2 separate regions of the Homo sapiens genome follow, and region 1 is linked to region 2. Evidence: fine-mapped expression QTL. A gene starts in region 2. The other region holds a variant in brackets. All regions are shown on one strand. Distances are between the middles of the regions.

Region 1 (5,000 bases), 53 kb before region 2:
ACAGAGTGAGACTGCCTCTAAAAAAAAAAAAGTTACATGTAAAGAAATATCCCCAAATACTACAGATAAATAAAAAGATGATTCTAATGAAAATGTTCAAGTAGCCCACAGGAAGGCAGGGAAAAGAAAATAGAAAAATGAAAAGTGGGCCTGGCACGGTGGCTCCCGCCTATAATCCCAGAACTTTGGGAGGCCGAGGCAGGCAGATCACTTGAGCTCAGAAGTTCAAGACCAGCCTGGTCAACATTGAAACCACGTCTCTACTAAAAATACAAAAACTAGCCAGGTGTGGTGGCAGGTGCCTGTGATCCAGGCTACTCAGGAGGCTGAGGCACAAGAATCACTTGAACCCGGGAGGCGGAGGTTGCAGTGAGCCGAGATCATGCCACTGCGTTCCAGCCTGGGAAATAGACAAAGACTCCATCTCAGGAAAAAAAAAAGGAGAGAAAAACATAAAACAAAAAATAAAACAGCAGGCTTATTCCCTAACATATCAATAGTTATATTGAATGTAAATGGTCTAAATGCAAAAGATTGATATCTATTTAAAAGCAATTGATAGAGTGGATTAAAAAACATGACCTAACTAGATGTGGTGCATAAAGTCATTGTAAGTATAGCAATAAAGGTAGGTTGGAAGTAAAAAGATGAAAAAAGATAGGAAAGATAGGTTATGTAAACATTAAACAAAAGAAAGCAGGAGAGTAGCTATACATATATATATTGTGCATGTATATATGTCAGATAAAGTGGGCTTCAGAGCAAAGAAACTTTTCTAGAGACAGAGACATTGTACAATGATACAAGAGCCAATCTAGTGAGAAAACAAATCATCCTAAATGTGTATGCACCAAACAACAGAACTGCAGTCCATATGAAGCCAAAACTGATAGAACTGAAAGGAGAGATAGAAAAATCGGCAACTGGGGCTGAAGACTTCAATCCTCCTTTCTTAACAATTGATACGACAGCTAGACAGAAAATCAACAAGGATATAGAAGAGTTCAACAAAATCATCAACCAACAAGATCTAATGAATATTTATAGAACACTTCACCCAACAACAGCAAAATGTTCATTCTTTTCGACTACTCAGGTAACACATTTCAAAATAGACCATATCCTGGGCCATAAAACAAACAGATGTAAAACAACTGAATTAATACCAAGTGTGTTCTCTGACCACAATGGAATCAAACTAGAAATCAATAACAAAAAGATAACAGAAAAATTTCCAAATGCTTGGAAACTAAACAACACACTTCTAAGTACTCCATGGACGAAAAAGGGAAGTCTCAAGAGAAATTATATATGTGTATATATAAAATATTTTATATATACAATATTATATATACATCTATATATTGTATGTGTATATATAATACATGTATAAAAATACACATATATGTATATGTATTGCATGTATTATATATTATATAATAGTATAATACATAATATATACTACTACTATTATATAATAGTATAATATTATACTATTATAATATATTATACTATTATATAATACATATAAAAATATACATTTATATATTTATTCATTTTTAGAGATGGGCTCTCGCTCTGTTGCCTAGGCTGGAATGCAGTGGCGCTATCACAGCTCACTGCAGCCTCAACCTCCCGAGTAGCTAGGACTACAAGATCACACTACCACGCTTGGCTAATTTTTGGATTTTTTTGTAGAGATGGGGTCTCCCTGTGTTGCCCAGGTTGGTCTCCAACTCCTGCACTCATGTGATTCACCCGCCTCTGCCTCCCAAAGTGCTGATATTACAGGTGTGAGTCACTGCACCTGGCCAAGGGAAATTGTAAAATACACTGAAGCGAGTGAAATGAAAATATAATGTAACAAAATCTGTGGGACACAGATGAAGAAAATGTATAGCATTAAATGCACATATTAGGACAGTAGAGGCCCAGGTATGGTAACTCATGCCTGTAATCCTAGTATTTTGGGGGGCCAAGGTGGACAGATCGCTTGATCCCAGGAGTTCGAGAGCAGCCTGGGCAACATGGCGAAACTCCAGCTGTACAAAAACACACACACAAAAAAACAACAACAAACAAACAAACCCAAATACAAAAATTAGCCAGGTATGGTGGCGTGTCCCTGTGGTCTCAGTTACTCAGGAGGCTGAGGTGGGAGGATCACTTGAGCTGGGGAGATCAAGGCTACAGTGAGCTGAGATTGTGCCACTGCACTCCAGCCTGGGTGACAGAGCGAGATCCTGTGTCAAAAAGAAAGAAAGGAAAAAAGAAAATAAATGAAAAGTAGAAAAGTCTTTATCAAATCAATGATCTAAGCTCATACCTCAAGAACTTGGGAAAAATATAAATCCAAAGCCAACAGAAGGAAGGAAATAATAAGATAAGAGCAGGGCTGAGCATGGTGGCTCACACCTGTAATCCCAACACTCTGGGAGACCAAGGTGGCAGAATTGCTTGAGCTCAGGAGTTTGAGAGCAGCCTGGGCAACATAATGAGACCCTATTTCTGAAAAACGTTAAAAATTAAAAATTTACCTATCATGGTGGTACACAACTGTGGTTCCAGCTACTTGGGAGGCTAAGGTGGGAGGCTCAGTTGAGCTGAGGAGCTGGAAGCTGCAGTGAGCTATGATCATGCCACTGCACTCCAGCCTGGGCGGCAGAGAAAGACCCTGTCTCCAAAAAAAAAAAAAAAAAAAAGGCAGAAATCCATGAAATTGAAAATAAAAAAAGAAACAGAAAACTGAAAAGAAAAGGAGAAAACCAACGAAACAAGGAGCTAATTATTTGAAAAGATCAATAAATCTCTAGCAAGACTGACAAATTTTAAAAGAGGAGAAATACATTAGCAATGAAAGAAAAGATATCACATGGACCCTGTAGGCATCAAAAGGATAATAGGGAAACACCGTGGGACTTAATAATAGGGAAATAAAATGAAATAGAGAATTATGACCGGGCACGGTGGCTCATGCCTGTAATCCCAGCACTTTGGGAGGCAGAGGCTGGCGGATCACGAGGTCAG[G/C]AGATCAAGACCATCCTGGCTAACACGGTGAAACCCCGTCTCTACTAAAAATACAAAAAATTAGCCAGGCGTGGTGGCGGGCGTCTGTAGTCCTGGCTACTCGGGAGGCTGAGGCAGGAGAATGGCGTGAACCCGGGAGGCGGAGCTTGCAGTGAGCCAAGATGGCGCCGCTGCACTCCAGCCTGGGCGACAGAGCGAGACTCAAAAAAAAAAAAAAAAAAATGAAAGAAATAGAGAATTATGTTTGGAGGCCATTAGTCAGCCTCAGTAGACCTCCAAAGCGTTAATTAGGTCCTAATCCCTGGAACCTGTAAATATTACCTTATATGGAAAAAGAGCGTTTGTAGATGCGATTAAGGATTTTGAGATGAGATTATCCTAGTAGACCTTAAGTGCAATGACAAATGTCTTTATAAGAGAGTAACAGAGGGAGTTGTGGACAAAAGAGAAGGGAATGCAACCATGGAGGCAGAGATTGAAGCAATGTGGCCACAAGCCAAGGAATGTTGGTTGCCACCAGAAACTTGAAGAGGCAAAAAATGAATTCTTCTATAGAGCTTCTGAAAAGTGTGTGGTCCTGCCAATGCCTTGATTTGACCATTGATGCTGATTTTGAACTTCTGGCCTCCATAACTGTGAGAGAATAAATTTCTGTTGTTCAAGTTATTAAGTTGTGTTAATTTGTTGCAGCAGCCCCAAGAAATTAATATCCTCCAAAAAATCTCTACATGCATAAATTTGGCAACTTAAATAAAATAAACCAATTCCCCTCAAAACACAAACTACCTAACTCATCCAGTATGAGTTTATATGTGTAGAGGTTTTTTTTTTAGGGTATTAGTTTAAATTAGTTTAATTTTAGGGTATTAGTTTAATTTGAATAGCCCTATAACTATTAAGAAAATTGAATTTGTAATAAAACCATCCTCCCTCCCTCTCAATATTTCCTGATCCAGATGGTTTCACTGGAGAATTCTACCACTTAAAGAAGAATTTAATTCTTCACAATCTCTTCCAGAGAACAGAAGAGAGAAAATGTTTTCCAATTAATTTTATAAGGTTAATATTATCAAAACCAGATGAGGACAGTAGAACAAAAAGAAAACTATAGACCAATATCCTGCATGAATATACAAGCAAAAATCCTTAACAAAATAGTAGCAAATGGACTCCAGCAATATATAAAAAGAATTATACAGTTGCATTTCAGGGATGCAAGGCTGATTCAATATCCAAAAATTGATCAATGTAATCCACCATGTTAACAGTATAAAGAGGAAAATCCATATAGTCATAGCAATGATGAAGAAAAGACATTTGACGGAATTCAACACCCATTTAATAATTAAAAAAAAAAAAAAACCTGACTTGGTGTGATGTAATCCCAGCACTTTGGGAGGCTGAGGCCGGCAGATCACCAGAGGTCAGGAGTTCGAGACCAGCCTGACCAACATGGAGAAACACCATCTCTACTAAAAATGCAAAATTAGCCGGGTGTGGTGGCGCATGCCTGTAATCCCAGCTACTCAGGAGGCTGAGGCAGGAGAATCTCTTGAACCCATGAGGCAGAGGTTATAGTGAGTGAAGATCGTGCCATTGTACTCCAGCCTGGGCCACAAGAGCGAAATTTCGTCTCAAAAAACAAAAACCAAACAAACAAACAAAAACACCTGTAAGAAAAAATAGGAATAGAGGGGAATGTCCTTAACTTGATAAGCAGCAACTATGAAAAACCCACTAACATTATACTTAATGGTAAAAGACTGAATGCTTTGCCCCTAATAGTGGGAATAAAGCACCAATTTTATTCAACATAGTGCTGGTAGCTCTAGTCTGTGCAATAAGAGAAGGAAATAAAAGATTGGCAATGAAGAGGCAAAACTCTTCCTATTTGCAGATGACGTGATTATATATATAGAAAATCTCAAAGAGTCTACAAAAACAAACAAACAAACCCCCTAGAAATAAGTGAA
Region 2 (5,000 bases):
AAGGGATGAAGCCTCCTCCACCCCAAACATATAGCCTTTGGCTCGCTGGGAGGAGAATTGCTCACCTTCTGCGGTGGTTTAGAACACCACCCTACACAGGGATACACATACACAGTGCCCCAGAGGAAATGCAAAGAAAGGTTTTGCTAGTCCAAGCAAGGTGTTGTGGGAGACCTCAGAGACCCTTAGAAAGAGCCTCACTCCCCACACTGCAACTTGAAAGACCCAGGACATCCCTCCCACCCCCAGGACAGACAGGGTTCTCACCAGCTGGGAACGCACAGAGCCCGTGACAACAGGAGGATCTGTTGGGCTGGGAACTTCACATCCCACCCACCCTGCCTCCAACTTCTTTTTTTTTCTGGCCAGATTAAAAGTCAAGCTTAAAGTGCTGTTGGGTTAGAGAGTTTCATTGTTTTAGTCTATTGGTTTCTCTCCCTCATTTTCTTCTCCCTCATCTCCCTTTTACTCCCAGGTTTTGCCCATTTTTTTTCTCTCTCTCCACACAGAAAATCTGTGAATTTTCTGGGCTTGAACGGAAGGAATGAGGAGGGAAAGGAGGGAATATTTGACCTATCCAGGCAGCACTCAGAGCTGTAATTGACACCAAGTCATCCTAGTAGACCTTGTCCTCACAGGCTTAGAGGATATTTGATTCCAGAATCCCCCACCAGCACCCCAAGATCCAGTGGTACCTCCTTCCTCCTTGGGGCTTCTATAGTTTTCAAAAATGGGAGAAATCAAAAATGCCATCATTATTCCAGTGACCGGGTGTGGAGGGAGTCTGCAGTTTGGCCAGAGGCCTGGTCTCAGAGAAAGGAGTCCTGAGGGCTGGGGGGTTGGGGCAAGGCCTAGGGCCAACTTGGTTCTGACCTTGCCTGCCAGTAGAGAATCTTGGGCTCTTCACCAAGTAAAGGCAAGATCAAGGGACTGGAGGTCTGAGTCCCTCTCTTGCCTAACTGCCCCAAGGGCCCCAGAAACTACTCTGGGCCAAAAATCAGTAATAGTTGAAAGAAAGAAACAAATACTGAAAACACCCAGATTTATAATCTGCTTAGACACCCAAACTCATCCTTAAAGCAGTAAATAAAATTTATCTCCTTGACTGCCTTGCAACTTTCTACTCAGTTTGGCAATGTGTAGATGGGGTCAGCTTGAGTTTCAGAGCTTGGGGGTCCAGCACTAAATGTCTAGAGAGCTAGATCTGGGGCCTCTCACCCCCTTTCCTCATATACCTCCTCTTGCTTCCTTCCCCTCCCAGGGCTTCTCAGAAAGTGACAGCTGACTTCCTTTTAGAACTGTGAAATCCCACAATTTCAGAGGATTTCAAATTCCTTGAACTTCAGGTTGAGAGCTATTTGGATTAATCAGAGAAGTTTGTGTCTGGAAAATGATGCCAGATTTAGCCAGAAAACTGAAAGACCAAATGCTTTACTTTTTTTTTCCTTTGTCTGATCTCAGTGCTTATCAGGTCAACCTTCACCTTTAAAAACACCCTGGTGGCAGTATTTCTTTGCCATCACTGTCTGTAAAGCAAAGGGCAAGCATCTCAGGGCTTTTAGTTGGGCCGGGAATTCAAATGTCTCCTTTCTCAAGAAGATGCCAAAGTGGCCACCCTCAGCCCACTTTCCGTCCTTACCTCCTCTGCCCTTTCCCCAGCTGTAGTTATAGGAATAATGGCCTTTAACTTGCAGAGATCATTAAGGCCAAAGCCCTCACTCCTTCCCATCTCTCCTCTTGGGGCCGTCTGAGTCGCTTCCTCCACGACCCTCCTCTTTTGAAGCACTCCCTAGTACTGTTAAAGGCCGAATTTGGGCTGGAGCGAAGATGGGGGCTCAGTCCAAAATAACCTAGATATTAAGTAATAGTAATGATTTTTTTAAAAGGTAACTATGAACTCTCAAGCCTCGACCACCCAGTAAAGTTCCTCCTTAAATTGTTGCCGGCCCTGGGTGCAGACACGCAAGGACTGGCCAGAACGCGAGAAACTTCTTCAAGGAGAGAGAAGTCAGGGCCCAAATTCCTCATGCTTTAAAGCAGTATAAGAGGAGAGAGTCCAAATTTTTACTCGTTAAACCTCCTCTTACCTCTTCCTCAGGTCTGTTCACTCCTTGGTCCAGGGACCGGAGCTCCTGGGCTTCGAGGTGAACCAGAGGGAACGTGGCTCCCCGCAGCAACCTTTTTGCTTCAGGGCTCCTCCTGGGGGCTGAGTGGTCCCCTTTGCTTTGCTATTCCCGCTGCGGCTCCTGGGGGGACAGCTCCGTGGGACCAGGTCTCTCAGGGGGTGGAGGGTCGCCGAAGTCGTGACCAGGAGTTGGAGACCGCTGCGTCCCTCCGCTGCGGACCTGCCTGGGACTGCGTGGAATGGACCAAGTCCTCCGTCTAGGATTCCCTAGTGCTCGACGGCGCGCACTCCGCAGTGCTCCGCTGGAGATCTGCACCTGTGTCCCGGGGCTGGGCGCAGAGTGAAGATCTCCGTGCACGCTGCTGACCGGCTCGGCGACTGCCTCCCTGCTGTGAGCAGGAGAACAGGAAGTCTGCCCGACAGGGAGGTGGCCGGGCGGGAGCGGCAGAGTCGGCGTTGAGAGGAGGGTCAGCTGCACCTCGGGATTCCGCGCGCCTTCAACTCCCTCTTGCGGACAGCCCAGCCGCGGGTTGGCGCCGCAGTGATGGAACCTGGGGAGGGCCTAGCTTAGAGTCCCAGCAGTCCAGAGGAGGGGACCAGAGCAGAGGATTAGGAACGGGGCTTTCATATCCAGCCTAGGCGCCCAGAAGCGGCACTTAAGGGGCGAAGGGAGGCCGCAATTACAAAGGTGCGCCCTCCGACGCCTCAACGTCAAGGGCCTGTAGATTCACAACCTCCTCTGTCGGGGATGGGGGAAGATGAGGTGGGATAGGGAGGCTATGTCCAGCCACCAGCGCAGGGAGTGGCTCTAAACGCTGACCCAACGCCTCGCCCCAAGCGGGATCTTGGCGCGCAGATAGACCGAGCCCGTGGTGGGGCGCCATGCCGGGCTCCCTCGCCCTTACCGAGTGAGCATCTTCTTCCCAATTTGCTGCTCAGAGAGGGAGTGGGTCCTAGTCTCTGGATCTCAGCGCTCACGACTACCTCGCTGCTCCTAACGAACGGTTCATCTGCTCTCTCCTGGCCGCCTGCGCCAGCGCCGCTCACCCACTTTTCCAGCCCTGGATCTCCTCTCCCCGGATGCGTCCTTCCTTCCCACAATTAACAAATGATCTAGCGAAACCCCGCCAGGTCCCCGGCAGAGAAGCACCTCCATCCGCCCTAACCAACCAATTAATCAGATCATTAAGGAGCCTGAGGAGTTGTAATTGGGTGGTTTGGGACGAGGGGGCGCTGAGGAGGTCATTAACCTCCCCGTAAAGATGGGGAACGGAGACGCGCCTGGCCGCCTCTGCCGCCCCTGCCGCCCCTGCCGCCCCTGTGGGCTCTTCTTAGCACGCGGGTTTTGGCCACTCCACCTGCCTGCTGCGCTCCAGTTCCCGCCTCCAGTCCAGCTATTTCACTTCTCTCTTTGTCATTCTCCGTCTTTTCTCTGGCAACCGTCCAGGGCCCCTTTCTTTGTGCCTACTTCTGTCTACCTGTCCAGCTGCCTCTTGCACCCTTTCTGTGGCCCAGCGGCCAAGAAAACTCAAAGGTCATGGCTGTTGGCCCCCGCTGATGATCTCTGGGCTCCCGGGTCTCAGACAATTCCTCAGGGCTGGCTAGAAATGGTGGGAGCTGGAGATTTGGACACTATACCCATTCCCCAAGAGAAGGGCATTTGCAAAGGGGAAGTGTTTCCTGAAACGTTCAATTCTCTTTCGGTATGAGATAGCTTTGGACAAGGTGACAAATGGCGGAAGGTCCAGGCCCCAGTGGATAAAAGCTCCATATTAATTTAATTAGAGACACAGAGACCTTGCATACTCCTTGTCTGCACAGGCAAATATGGAGGAGGTAGTGATTGGGTGTTGTGGCCTGACTGGTCTCAGTCTAAGAGTCCCCAGCACCTGTGACCTGGTTCCTGGTGTTCCAAGAAGTCCAGGTGACAGTATCTGTTCAACCTTGTGGAACAATAAATTGTTTGTCCTTTTAATTTGTCTTGTCAGATCCCCAAGTATATTACAATGCCTCCCTCTGCATTACATTTTTGGTTGGTTGTGTAAGAATGGTGGATGAGAGGTTCTTAACATTTTGGGGCCACTCCCTGATATGATAATTTAAATTTTGATGAACAATATTGATTCCCCTCTACCCAGAAAAAAAATGTGCGTATGTAGTACTCACCAAATCCCACAATTTCAGAGAGTTTCAGACTCCTCAGACACCAAGTTAACAACTACAATTTGGATAGATCAAAGGAGCTGGTGTCTGGGAAATGCCGAGGCCAAATATAGTCAGTTTACGTAGGTCTTCACCCTTTCTCTTGGCTGACATCTCCATTTTGCCAGGCCAGCCTTCACCTGTAAAAACACTCCGGTGGCAGTGTCCTCTCCCCACCATTACCTGTAGGGTCTGGGCTCCCAGTGGGAGTCAGTCTTTCCTTCCCAGCAGCTGGGAGCCTGAGAACGTGGGAAGAGCTTTGCTGGGGAAAGCTGATCTTAGACTGGCCAGCAGTTGGACCAGCAATGGAAGGAAATCAGGCTTAAGCAGCTTCCCAGGGACTAAAAACCATACCAGAACTCCTGGAAGGGAAGACTATCTGGAAACAGCCTCCTAACTAAAGCTGCCTATAAGTCAAGCAAATGGGGACTGGGCAATAGAATGTTCCTTTGTGTCCCTTATTGACTCACTTATTCCATTTCCTCAGGGACCCAGCTCTACTTGGGGCTGATTTAGCCAAGGTTAGAGGCTGGGGAATACCAAATGCTGAACTTAAAGGGGAAGGATTTGCTCCCTAATATTTTAGTAATCTTGTTTGTAAGAGATAAACAGCATGTGACCCCTGACTATCCTGGGGGACCTCCTAATTACGCCCAGCCTCTTGTGTTGTGGC

Evidence for each region.
Region 1: its variant is fine-mapped to the expression of LINC02086 in whole blood (TOPMed, PIP 0.97).

The regions. Positions count from the first base shown.
Region 1 is chr17:48,693,379-48,698,378 of GRCh38, reverse strand. The region is part of intron 5 of LINC02086 (long intergenic non-protein coding RNA 2086); the gene reads right to left. Among named protein-coding and RNA genes, the nearest start is that of PRAC1, 27 kb to the left of the region's middle. The variant G/C (reference allele first, on the strand shown) is at 3,028.
Region 2 is chr17:48,640,166-48,645,165 of GRCh38, reverse strand. It overlaps LINC02086 (long intergenic non-protein coding RNA 2086), which reads right to left and starts at 2,539. Exons shown (of 8, transcript NR_189645.1): 1 at 1-2,539. The region is part of intron 1 of LINC03057 (long intergenic non-protein coding RNA 3057); the gene reads left to right. RefSeq lists enhancers at 1,945-2,941, 2,942-3,940.